Homo sapiens: one gene and its partners. The protein of the gene in region 1 purifies or fractionates together with the protein of each later gene. This does not show direct contact. Each region holds a gene or a part of one and is shown in the gene's direction. Other genes may lie near its edges. The genes, in order: TXNDC5, VRK3 and XPO5.

Evidence for each region.
Region 2: the proteins of TXNDC5 (region 1) and VRK3 purify together in Homo sapiens (affinity purification with mass spectrometry; 2 studies listed by BioGRID and IntAct, with this or other methods). This does not show direct contact.
Region 3: the proteins of TXNDC5 (region 1) and XPO5 fractionate together in Homo sapiens (co-fractionation; one large-scale study listed by BioGRID). This does not show direct contact.

Annotation. Positions count from the first base shown.
Region 1 is NC_000006.12:7,900,777-7,904,426, reverse strand, and holds part of TXNDC5 (thioredoxin domain-containing protein 5 isoform 1 precursor), read left to right. Parts: intron 1-3,650. UniProt on the Homo sapiens protein: Protein disulfide isomerase of the endoplasmic reticulum lumen involved in the formation of disulfide bonds in proteins. Can reduce insulin disulfide bonds.
Region 2 is NC_000019.10:49,994,290-49,997,939, reverse strand, and holds part of VRK3 (serine/threonine-protein kinase VRK3), read left to right. Parts: intron 1-369; coding exon 370-436; intron 437-2,664; coding exon 2,665-2,749; intron 2,750-3,020; coding exon 3,021-3,126; intron 3,127-3,650. UniProt on the Homo sapiens protein: Plays a role in the regulation of the cell cycle by phosphorylating the nuclear envelope protein barrier-to-autointegration factor/BAF that is required for disassembly and reassembly, respectively, of the nuclear envelope during mitosis.
Region 3 is NC_000006.12:43,558,984-43,562,633, reverse strand, and holds part of XPO5 (exportin-5), read left to right. Parts: intron 1-226; exon of another isoform or gene 227-287; coding exon 288-387; exon of another isoform or gene 388-1,234; intron 1,235-1,626; coding exon 1,627-1,710; intron 1,711-2,330; coding exon 2,331-2,456; intron 2,457-3,650. UniProt on the Homo sapiens protein: Mediates the nuclear export of proteins bearing a double-stranded RNA binding domain (dsRBD) and double-stranded RNAs (cargos). XPO5 in the nucleus binds cooperatively to the RNA and to the GTPase Ran in its active GTP-bound form.

The DNA of each region.
Region 1 (3,650 bases):
CTGTTTTAGATGGCTTTTATACTTGGATAACCTTTAATTCATCAGTGTTGGGTTTTCCTGTTTATAAGAGAATGTGTTTGCAAGAGAAAAATGACGGTCCCGCCATGCTAGATGTTCACCGGTACATTTTACACAGTGTGCATGGACTGTCATCAGTTTTGGCTTGCTTTTGCTGGTGACTTATTCGCAAACACCCTTCCTATAGTTCCTTCCCGTGTGACTCCCACAGGGCTGTTCCTGTTGGAAAGAAAGTATAGAGTCTGACAGACGATGATACTTACTTCCTTGACAGTTAAGAATTTTTTTGGTTATAAGAAATAGAAATTGAAATGTTCTCAATTCTAGAAATAGAATTGTTCTCTTATTAAACAGAAAGAAAGGACTATTTAAAAGGCTGTGGAGGAACCTCTGAGAGCCAGCTCCAGGGGCCTGGGGTCTGTTTCTCCTGCACCTCCCTTGAGATGACGGCTTTCCAGGCCTGTATCTCTGTTTGCACAGAAGGGCCCACCACTGACTGGCCCTGCTTGGCTGGAATGTTCGTTCCAGGAATAGTCACTGTGGCCAGGGAAACAGGAGCTTATAGCAAGACACATGCCCATTCACACCATGTGCCAAGTGTTGGAGGGAAAAGCAGTTCTTCAAAAAAGAGAAGAAGCTGTTTCTGAAGGAGGTGGAGGGATTGCCACGGTCACTTCCTTGCTGTTTGTTTCAATTGAGGAATGAAGTCAATTCTATACAATTTATTGCTTAATTGAATAATATAGGGGTCCATCAATAAAGCAAAAAATTGGAGCTTATATTCAAACCTGGGAGGCAGAAAAGTGGAGGGATCTCCAGGCTTGAACCTAGAAGTCGTAGTCAAATCCCAGCTCTACCATTTACTTACCACCCAGCTCTGACCTCATCACTTAACCTGTAAGTAAGGTGATCCCCCAAACATTGTTACAGGACTTACATGGAATGTGTGCAGACACCAATCTGAGCACACCCAATACATGTTAGGGTTTTCCCTACCATTTGGAAATGTGGGCGTTTCCACAAAGGACCCTGGAATTCTTGGTCTTTGGTGACTGCTTGCTAATGTAAGTGCCATAATTTGGGTTTACTTTAAATCAGATCAATGGAGATAAAATTGCTTACTATCTGTATCTACGTAAAAGCATTAACTATTCTATGCTTTATAGTATTGCATTGAAAGTATGGATCAAGAGCATCCCAAAGAAGCAGGTAGTGAGCAGAGATGAGGGCGAGGAGGTGAATGCTTACCTGTTGAGAAACTGTTGCTTTCAAAGTTCAGGGGCAGCAGGGGTGAGCTGGCTGTGGTGTCTTTCCTCTTAACCTGCTGACCATCTGTGGCCTGAGACTATGTGCATCACACACCATGCCACAGGGAAGGTGACACAGGACCTGTAATGGAGCTGAGAGTGGTATGTGTTATGGGGCTTCAGAGAAGGAAGTGAAGGCTTCCACCTCAGCCTGGCCATAACAGCTGTCAGCTGCAATATCAGCTACTCCATAGTTGGTATTCACCAAAAACCATCACAAATTTAAAAAGTCACAAATGTAAAAAGTCACAAATTTAAAAAGGCCCATGTTGGATCATGTGTTTAGATTTTTAATGAGAAGAGCTGGTCTCCCCAAGTAAACCATGGCTGGTTTTGTGTTATTAAAAAGAACAAAAATGAACGTACACCACACTGAACACAGTTTGGGAAGGAACCTCTGTGACCATCACTGCCCTGCAGAAGCTCCAAGAACAGATTATTTTCCCCCCGAGAATGCAGGAGGTGGAATGTGCTGTGTGCAATGTGGTCGCACTGGGGCATCTGTAGATTGACTTGAGCGAGCTTTGACTCCTCTAAGACAAGTGCCCATCCCATAGAGTGGTTGTGAGGCCCGAGGCAGGTGACGACTGTACCTGCCTGAGTCCAGGCATGTGTCAGGACATGAGCTTTCACGTTATTCTTTCCTGGCAAGTGTAACTGGAGTAAAGGATTGGAGGGGCAGGGAGTTTGGGCTCCCACGCTCCCTAGAGATGGCTGGCTGTGCTCAGGAAAATGTTTTGAGGTCTTCCTGTTGGGCCAGTCATGAATCATTACAGCAGGGCAGGACTGACGGGGGGAACTACCTGTGTTAGTTTCCTAGGCTGCTGTAACAAAGTTCCACAAACCGGGTGGCCAGAAACAATAGAAATGTATTCTCTGCAGTCCTGGAGGCCAGAGGTCCTAAATCAAGGAGCCAGCAGGGTCATGCTCCCTCTGAAACCTGTAGGGGAATCCTCCCTTGCCTCGTCCTGGCTCCTGTTGGTTTCCTGGTCATCTTTGGCGTTCCTTGGCTTGTAGATGCATCACTGCCGTCCTCTGTCCTCACATGCCCTTCTCTCTCTGTGTGTGTGTGTCTCTCTGTGTCCAAACCCTTCTTACAAGGACACCAGTCATGCTAGATTGGGGCCCATCCTAGTGACCTCATTTTAACTTGAATATCTCTGTAAAGACCTTATTCTAAATAAGGTCACCTTCTGAGATTGATGGTTATGACTTACACAGATCTGTCTTGCAGGACACAGTTCAACTGATAACACTGTCTACGGTAGTAGAACTTTCATCATGCTGTTTGCCAAGGCAGTACCTACATGGGGATTTTCTCCCTGCAGTCTCCTTGAAAAAGGAGACTCAAATGCCCATGTGGAGGCTTGGTAATAGCGGAAATCTGGGGCAATACTTTGTTTGGGCTTGTACCCTGTGGCCCAGTCTCCATCACCTCCCTCACCCCTGTCGACAGTGAGAATTGAAGTCAGATGTCCCAAACTCACTGCAAGGTCTGGACCAGAAGTGTCCGCTCTGTCCCTGGGCTCTGTGAACTTACCGAGGAAGAATCTCAGACTTCCTGGGCAGGTTAGAACGATTATCAGTCCAACAACAAGAAGATGGTTTTTTTTAAATTATTTGTTTTGCAAATGAATAGCAAATTACAAAAAAATCATAGGCTAGGTCTTACTGTATTTTACTTTTAGCAAAGACACAAGTGTGACCGTCCCTGGTCCTTTCTGATGTCTTGAGGATCCACCCATTTCCCTTCCTGAAGAGCGTTAGCGGGAGGCAGAGCCGTGCAGGAAGCAGTTTCTGTTTCCAGGTGCGGAACACACCTTGTGGGAGCCTGGGGAGGTGCCAGGCTAGGTGAGGGCAATCATCTTTGATACCGCAGATGTTGCAGTTGCTTATCATGTTGAACTTCGTGACGTAGCCGGTGTACTGGCCAAATCTAGTTAAGTTTTGGCTGTTTTTTGTGGTTATGAGAGTCTGAGCTGCTGAGGAAGCTGGGTGTATATTCTGCACTGGAGACACATTAGGGACCCTACCTATGCCCCATCATACCATCTTAGGTTCTGGGTAAGGCCAGTATGCTGATACTAATTTCAAAGCCTAATCTAGCCATGTGACTTCATTTTAAGGAGAATTAGCCATTTTTTTTTGGACTGAATGTGTGTGTACCCCAGCATTCATAGGGGAAATCCTAATCCCCAATGCTGGCAATAGGAGGTGGGGCCTTTGAGAGGGAGCAGGTTATTAGGGTGGAGCTCTCATGAATAGGGTTGCATACCTTATGAAAGAGGCCCCAGAGAGTTCTGTTTCCCCTTTTGCCATGTGAGG
Region 2 (3,650 bases), on another chromosome or scaffold:
AGCCCACTAAGGGCATAACCTGGAAGTTGCCCACATTTCTTCTGCTCACATCCTCATTGGCCAGAACTTGGTCATGTGGTCAGTCCTCACTGCAAAGGAAGCTGGGAAACGTAGTTTTTATGCTGAAGGCTACATTCTAGGGAACACTGTGGCTCTTACCATAAGAGAAAGAAAAGGAACCTGGGTACAGCAAGGTAGCTCGCAGTCTCTGATGTGTGTTTGTGTGCAGTACCTGAGGAATTTGGCTCCGATGTGGGGACTTGATGAGGAGCCTGGTCATTGAGGGAGTAACAAATTGCCAGTGGGGACTGGGGGCCCTTATCTGAGACTTCAGTGTGACAGCCTTCTGCCCCTCCTGTCCCCCACCAGGATGCCAAGGATGGGCGCTTGTTCAATGAGCAGAACTTCTTCCAGCGGGCCGCCAAGCCTCTGCAAGGTACCTGACAGGGAACTGGGCAAGGAGGGGAGAGTGAGGGGGGCGCCAACTTGGTCACAGCACTTGACTTCTACCTGCAGGCATGAGAAGGGTGGGCTTAGATTAAAGGCCCAGGTTTGCTCCCATCTGTGTCCATAACCTGACTCCTGTGACCCCTCAGGCCTCAGTGTGTGTTGTGACTGGCTCACACCAGCTCTTGGAAGCCAAGTATTAAATTTTCAGGCTGGGCGTGGGTTGACGCCTATACTCCCAGCACTTTGGGAGGCTGAGGTGGGCAGATCACTTGAGGCCAGGAGTTTGAGACCATCCTGGGCAATGTGGCAAAACCTTATCTCTACTGAAAATACAAAAATTAGCCGGGTGTAATGGCATGCACCTGTGATCCCAGCTACTCAAGAGGCTGAGCTGAGAGAATTGCTTGAGCCCGGGAGACAGAGATTGCAGTGAGCTGTGATTGTGCCACTGCACTCCAGCCTGAGCAACAGAGCCAGACCCTGTCTCCAAAAAAAATAAAAATAAAAATAAATTTTTAGGAAGATGGCAAGCTGGTTGTTACAGACAGCCAGTACTAGCAATTAAATTATATAGGCCAGGCGTGGTGGCTCATGCCTGTAGTCTTAGCACTTTGGCAGGCTGAGGTGGGTAGATCACCTGAGGTCAGGAGTTCAAGAGTAGCCTGGCCAACATGGTGAAACCCCATCTCTACTAAAAATACAAAAATTAGCCAGGCGTGGTGGCGTGTGCCTGTAATCTCAGCTACATGGGAGGCTGAGGTGGGAGAATCACTCGAACCTGGAAGGTGGAGGTTGCAGTGAGCCGAGATCATGCCACTGCACTCCAGTCTGGGCGATAGAGTGAGACTTAGTCTCAAAAAATATATAAAATAAGTTACATAATTTTACAAATAAATTATATTCAAAACAAAGGTAATGAACCCTCAGAAATTCATCACTTCCTAATTATTTCCTACATGTCCTGTGATCTCTGCCAGTGAGGTTGTGTGCACTATTGTCTCTGTGTGGTGAGAATGCTGCATGATGGCCTCCCCTGTATATCTCTCCCACCCCACCTCCAGTCATGTCATGTTGGTAGCTTGGAGTTGGCCATAGCAGGAGTATTTATTTACACTGCAGAAATTAGCAAATGCAGTCGGGCGCGGTGGCTCATGCCTGTAATTCCCACACTTTTGGAGGCGGAGGCCGGTGGATCACCTGAGGTCAGGAGTTCGAGACCAGCCTGGCCAACATGGCAAAACCCATCTCTATTGAAAATACAAAAAAAAAAGGCCGGGCGTGGTGGCTGATGCCTGTAATCTCAGCACTTTGGGAGGCCGAGGCGGGCGGATCATGAGGTCAGGAGATTGAGACCATCCTGGCCAACATGGTGAAACTCCATCTCTACTAAAAATACAAAAATTAGTTGGATGTGGTGGCACGTGCCTGTGATCCCAGCTACTCGGGAGGCTGAGGCAGGAGAATCACTTGAACCTGGGAGGTGGAGGTTGCAGTGAGCCGAGATCACGCCACTGCTCTCCAGCCTGGTGACAGACGAAGACTCCATCTCAAAAAAAATAAAAAATAAAAAAAAATTAGCTGGGCCTGGTGGCAGAAGCCTGCAATCCCAGCTACATGGAAGGCTGAGGCAGGAGAATTGCTTAAAATCAGGAAGCGGAGGTTGCAGTGAGCCAAGATCGCGCCATTGTATTCCATCCAGGGCGACAGAGCAAAACTTCGTCTCAAAAAAAAAGAAAAAAGAAATTAGCAAATGCTACCCATCAGGACTGCCTTCCCTGGATAGCCAGCTGTTAAACTAGCATCAGCTCGCCATTGGTTCTGGTCCACCCCACTGAGATCTGGAAGACAGGCAGAGGCACATTCCGGTGATGCCATGGCTAGGTTAGACACGTGTTGATCTTGTTAGCTCTATGTGTGAATTCGGAAGTAACCCTGTCATTATCCCATCTCTGCACTCCAGACTTGTATATGCTTCCTCCAGAGCCACCATGATCACCCCATCACCTGCAGACCTGGATCACAGACATTCATGGTCACCCATGCCTGCCCTGTCACCAGCCCCTTCCCACCATCACCCACCCACAATGTTGTCACCTCCAACAAGGAGACTTGGAGGCGGTCTGGGCACTCTGTGCTTCTTCTCTGAGAACTAGCTCTTACTGCCATGGGCTTGGGACTGGGTGGGTTCTAACCTCAAGCCCCTGCTTTCCGCAGTCAACAAGTGGAAGAAGCTGTACTCGACCCCACTGCTGGCCATCCCTACCTGCATGGGTTTCGGTGTTCACCAGGACAAATACAGGTGAGCTGCTCTGCTCACTGCTTGCCTCACCGGCCTCTTTCCTCTTCTTCCTGTTGTGACTCCAGGCATGGCTGGGACCCCGAAGCCGTGGGCCAGGTCTTTGCTTCCTGCCTTCTCGTAGTTTTGACCTAGTTTGCTGCCCAGCCAGTCAGAACCTTTGATCTCACCTGGGACCAGGACCTTGCAGCCCACGCAACAGTCCATCCTTGGCGGCCGGTACTCCTCTCTCCCCTGTTCATCTCCCACCTCCTGGGGTGCTTGTGTCTTCCAGGTTCTTGGTGTTACCCAGCCTGGGGAGGAGCCTTCAGTCGGCCCTGGATGTCAGCCCAAAGCATGTGCTGTCAGAGAGGTCTGTGCTGCAGGTGGCCTGCCGGCTGGTGCGTACCCAGAAGTTGCTCAGCTGCCGCGTCAGGGAGGGCACATCACATCCTAGTTTAGCAGGCACTTTAGTCATTGACACTTCCGGCCCCCACCCCCCTCCGCTGCACACTGGGGGCTGGCTCACTGACTGCCATGGCAGGCGGTTAGAGCCGAGATGATGGGTGGTCAGTCCTGTGGAGGGCCCTTGGGGGGCCATGAGCATTGGAGGAAGGAGCCCCGGCCTCAAACTGAAGGCTTAGATTAGGCTTCCTGGTGGAGGGTGTTTCTAAGCCAAGACTCTCAGGATGAGTGGAAATAGCAAAGTGCTGGGTGGAAGAGGAAGAGGATAGATGAGGAGAGGATGGTCCGGCCAAGGATACAGCTGGGGCAAGGCTTGTGTGGAAGGGAGAGCATATGGCATTTGTTCATTAGTTCATTCATTCATCCCCATTAAATATTCATCAGGCACTTGCTGGGTGCCAGACGCTGTCCCCGGGGCTGGGTGCAGAGCAGGGAGCAGCATAAACATGGTTTCTGTGTC
Region 3 (3,650 bases), about 36 Mb from region 1:
GCCTTTTATGTGATACTGTCCTCCTCCAGAAGACAGCTAATATAGTTGCTTTTCACACTCATAGTTATTAATTGCTGTTTGTGTGAATAGTCCTATATCATTTTAGGTCAGGTTTTGCCACCAAATAAGTTAAAAAGATTTTAAAAAATTTTTAATTTAGCAAAGCTATTGGAATTCTGCTGAATTACAGACCTAACTAAATGACTTGGAGAAATGAGACACAAAGTGATGTTTTTATTACAGCCTTTTTAATTTTGTTGGTGATATAAGGAATTCTCATCTTACAGGACTGCTGATGGAGGAGGTTTGGTAGAAAAACACTACGTCTTTCTGAAGAGGCTCTGTCAGGTGTTGTGTGCGCTGGGCAATCAGCTGTGTGCATTGCTGGTGAGCTAGTGTTTGCTTTCTGGAGAGCTTCAAGCCCATTTGGGAAGAGCATTTAGAAACTTATGTTTCAATGAGGGGTTGCAAATGTCATTGATTTTAGCCTGATGGGGCAGTGCCATACAAGTTATTGCATGATTCTATAGATTAAATTATCTTAATAGAATAGTGTTTGAGTGATCTAAATTTCTTTTAACAATAAAATAGTTATACCAACGTCAGATATCCACGTCTATTATTCCATAAAGTCAACGTTGGTTTCTTGTGAATTTTGGTACTTACAGAACCTCAATCTGCTGAGTGCTTTATGCTTTTACATTCTGTTAGCCCACGAAACATGGACTTGAATAAAGAACTCTTTTCCCAATCTAAGGGATGTATTATTGGAGCACAAAAGAAAACTTGAGTCTGATTGACCTGGAAAACCTGCCATTAGAGAAATATTTAATACTCAGTCTTATAAGTTGGAAGATAGGACATTGGAACAGACATTTGCAATTGATGTTATATCTTTTTGTGGTGGTTTAAATGGTTAGAGAGGATAGTTTCAGAGATAAGCAACCATTGAGGGGGCCAGGTGCAATGGCTCATGCCTGTAATCCCAGCATTTTGGGAGGGTGAGGTGGGCAGATCACCTGAGGTCAAGAGTTTGAGACTAGCCTGGCCAACATGGTGAAACCCTGTCTCTACTAAAAATACAAAAATTAGCCAGGCGTGGTGGTGCATGCCTGTTATCCCAGCTACTCGAGAGGCTGAGGCAGGAGAATTGCTTGAACCCTGGAGGTAGAGGTTGCAGTGAGCCGAGATCGTGCCACTGCTCTCCAGCCTGAGCAACAGAGTGAGACTCCATCTAAAAGAAAAAAAAAAGAAAAGAAACTATTGAAGGGATTAGGTAATAGGTTGGGACACAGAGATGTGAATAGGTAAGGTCTGAGGAAGTAATACAGATTTTTTTTCTTTCTGTAATTTCTGAAATGAGTGTTTTTTATTTTACTGTTTGACCACAGAATGGGTTTTAATGATGATGATTGAGTAGGCAAAGTAATGATGATGATTGAGTAGGCAAAGTAACCTATATTTTAGCCCTTGAAGTGATGCCTTTCTTTAGCCAAAAGGAAATACAAAGTCCTTTTGAAACAACATTTTTTGAGGGTTTAATTTATCTGTTTTTATTACTTCCCTGCTTTTTCCTCTCCTGCTTTTCTCGATCAACACCGTTAATATAGTGGTCTTCTCCTACAGGGTGCAGATTCTGATGTAGAAACACCATCAAACTTTGGAAAATACCTGGAATCTTTTCTTGCTTTCACAACCCATCCAAGTCAGGTAAACTTTATACAGGTAACTTCTCAAAAGTTTAGTTAGGTGAACCAATGTCAAGCACTGTGTCCTGAAATATTATTGTAGATCATGTATAAAATGTGACTCTTCAGGCCTTGGGGAATGACCGTAGTGTCATTTCATTAAGAGAATTATTGGCTCTTCTTCCTGAGCCAAACAGTGCACTTGTCTAGGTCAGCAGCTTTTCCCTTTAGGTAATATTCTGATTGTACTCAGTCACATGTGAGGTGTGTCCCAGGTGGTTTAGTACTAAAGTTATAAAGATTTTTGAAACAAAAGTCTGATTAATTGTATTATAAAATTAATTTCACTCTGTTCAAAATTGTCCTTCTAATATCACTCTGAGATTCCAGTATCCTTTTTTGCAAAGAAGAGAAAGTAGTAAAATTCAGCTCACATTCCAGGTAATTTCCTTGATCCACAGCCTGTCTTACTAACATGTGGTCCATAGTGGGTGGTCATTACTGATAAATTGCAGTAGAGACAGCTTCAAAGTATTGTACAGATTTATTTCTATGAAAAAATGTAGTTGATAACTGCTAAGTAATAATCTGGGTTATATAGAATCCAAATCCTTTGACGTTTTCTTTTTTTTTTCTCTTTAGTTTCTACGCTCTTCAACTCAGATGACTTGGGGAGCCCTCTTCAGGCATGAAATCCTGTCCCGTGATCCTTTGCTATTAGCAATAATACCAAAATATCTTCGTGCTTCCATGACTAACTTGGTCAAGGTATATAATGGGAATCTAAACATGTGGAATGTAGGTGAATACACATAATAAGACTTTGAGGCTGGGTGCGGTGGCTCACGCCTATAATCCCAGCTCTATGGAAGGCTGAGGCGGGAGGATCGCTTGAGCCCAGGAGTTGGAGACCAGCCTGTGCGACATGGCAAAACCTCGTCTCTACTAAAAATACAAAAAAATTAGCAGGGCATGTTGGTATGCACCTGTAGACCCAGCTACTGGGGAGGCTTAAGGTGGGAGGATCACCTGAGCTTGGGAAGTTGAAGCTGCATTGAGCTGAGATCGCAGCACTGCACTCCAGCCTAGGCAATGAGAGTGAGACCCTGTCTCGGGGGAAACATAAAAAAGACTGATTGGCATTATTAACAGCCCTTCTTCATCACTAAGATTCCTTTACTGGACATATTTTCTTATTCCTTAGGAAGAAATCAGTCCTTACTGGTTATTATAACTGCTCTTCCATATGAGAGTACTTAATATATCATAAGTATTGGGCTAGGTGCTAGGGCAAGAGCAGTGACCATACAATGTAATAATTGCTATTCAGGGGTTAAAAGCAGAATGCTTTGGAAGTACATAGGAGGGTTGAGTCAGGAAGATTCCAAGAGGAGGCAATATCTAAGCATTGCTTCTGGAGGCCAAGTGAGAGTTACAAAGGGAAATGAGGGGAGTGAGAGTGGAAGCAAAGATTGCTCACTACCTCAGTAGAGAGTTGCTCATGAATTCCCTGCTAAGAGCTCTTGCAGTTGACAGATTGTTAATCTCAATTTGTAACATCAGAGAATGGTGCACATTCAAGGGTCCCCTTATTTTCTTAAGGAATTTGCCTAGCACATAGCACACACTGGTGTTCTGTGTTTTTTTTTGAGACGGAGTCTCACCCTGTCACCGAGGCTGGAGTGCAGTGGCACGATCTTGGCTCACTGCAACCTCTGCCTCCTGGGTTCAAGCAATTCTCCTGCCTCAGCCTCCCAAGTAGCTGGGACTACAGGTGCCCACCACCACACTTGGCTAATTTTTTGTATTTTAGTAGAGACAGGGTTTTACTGTTTTTCCCAGGCTGGTCTCAAACTCCTGAGCTCAGGCAATCCACCCGCCTCGGCCTCCCAAAGTGCTGGGATTACAGGCGTGAGCCACCGCACCCGGCCACACTGTGTTCTTATTTTCTGCCATGGTCTT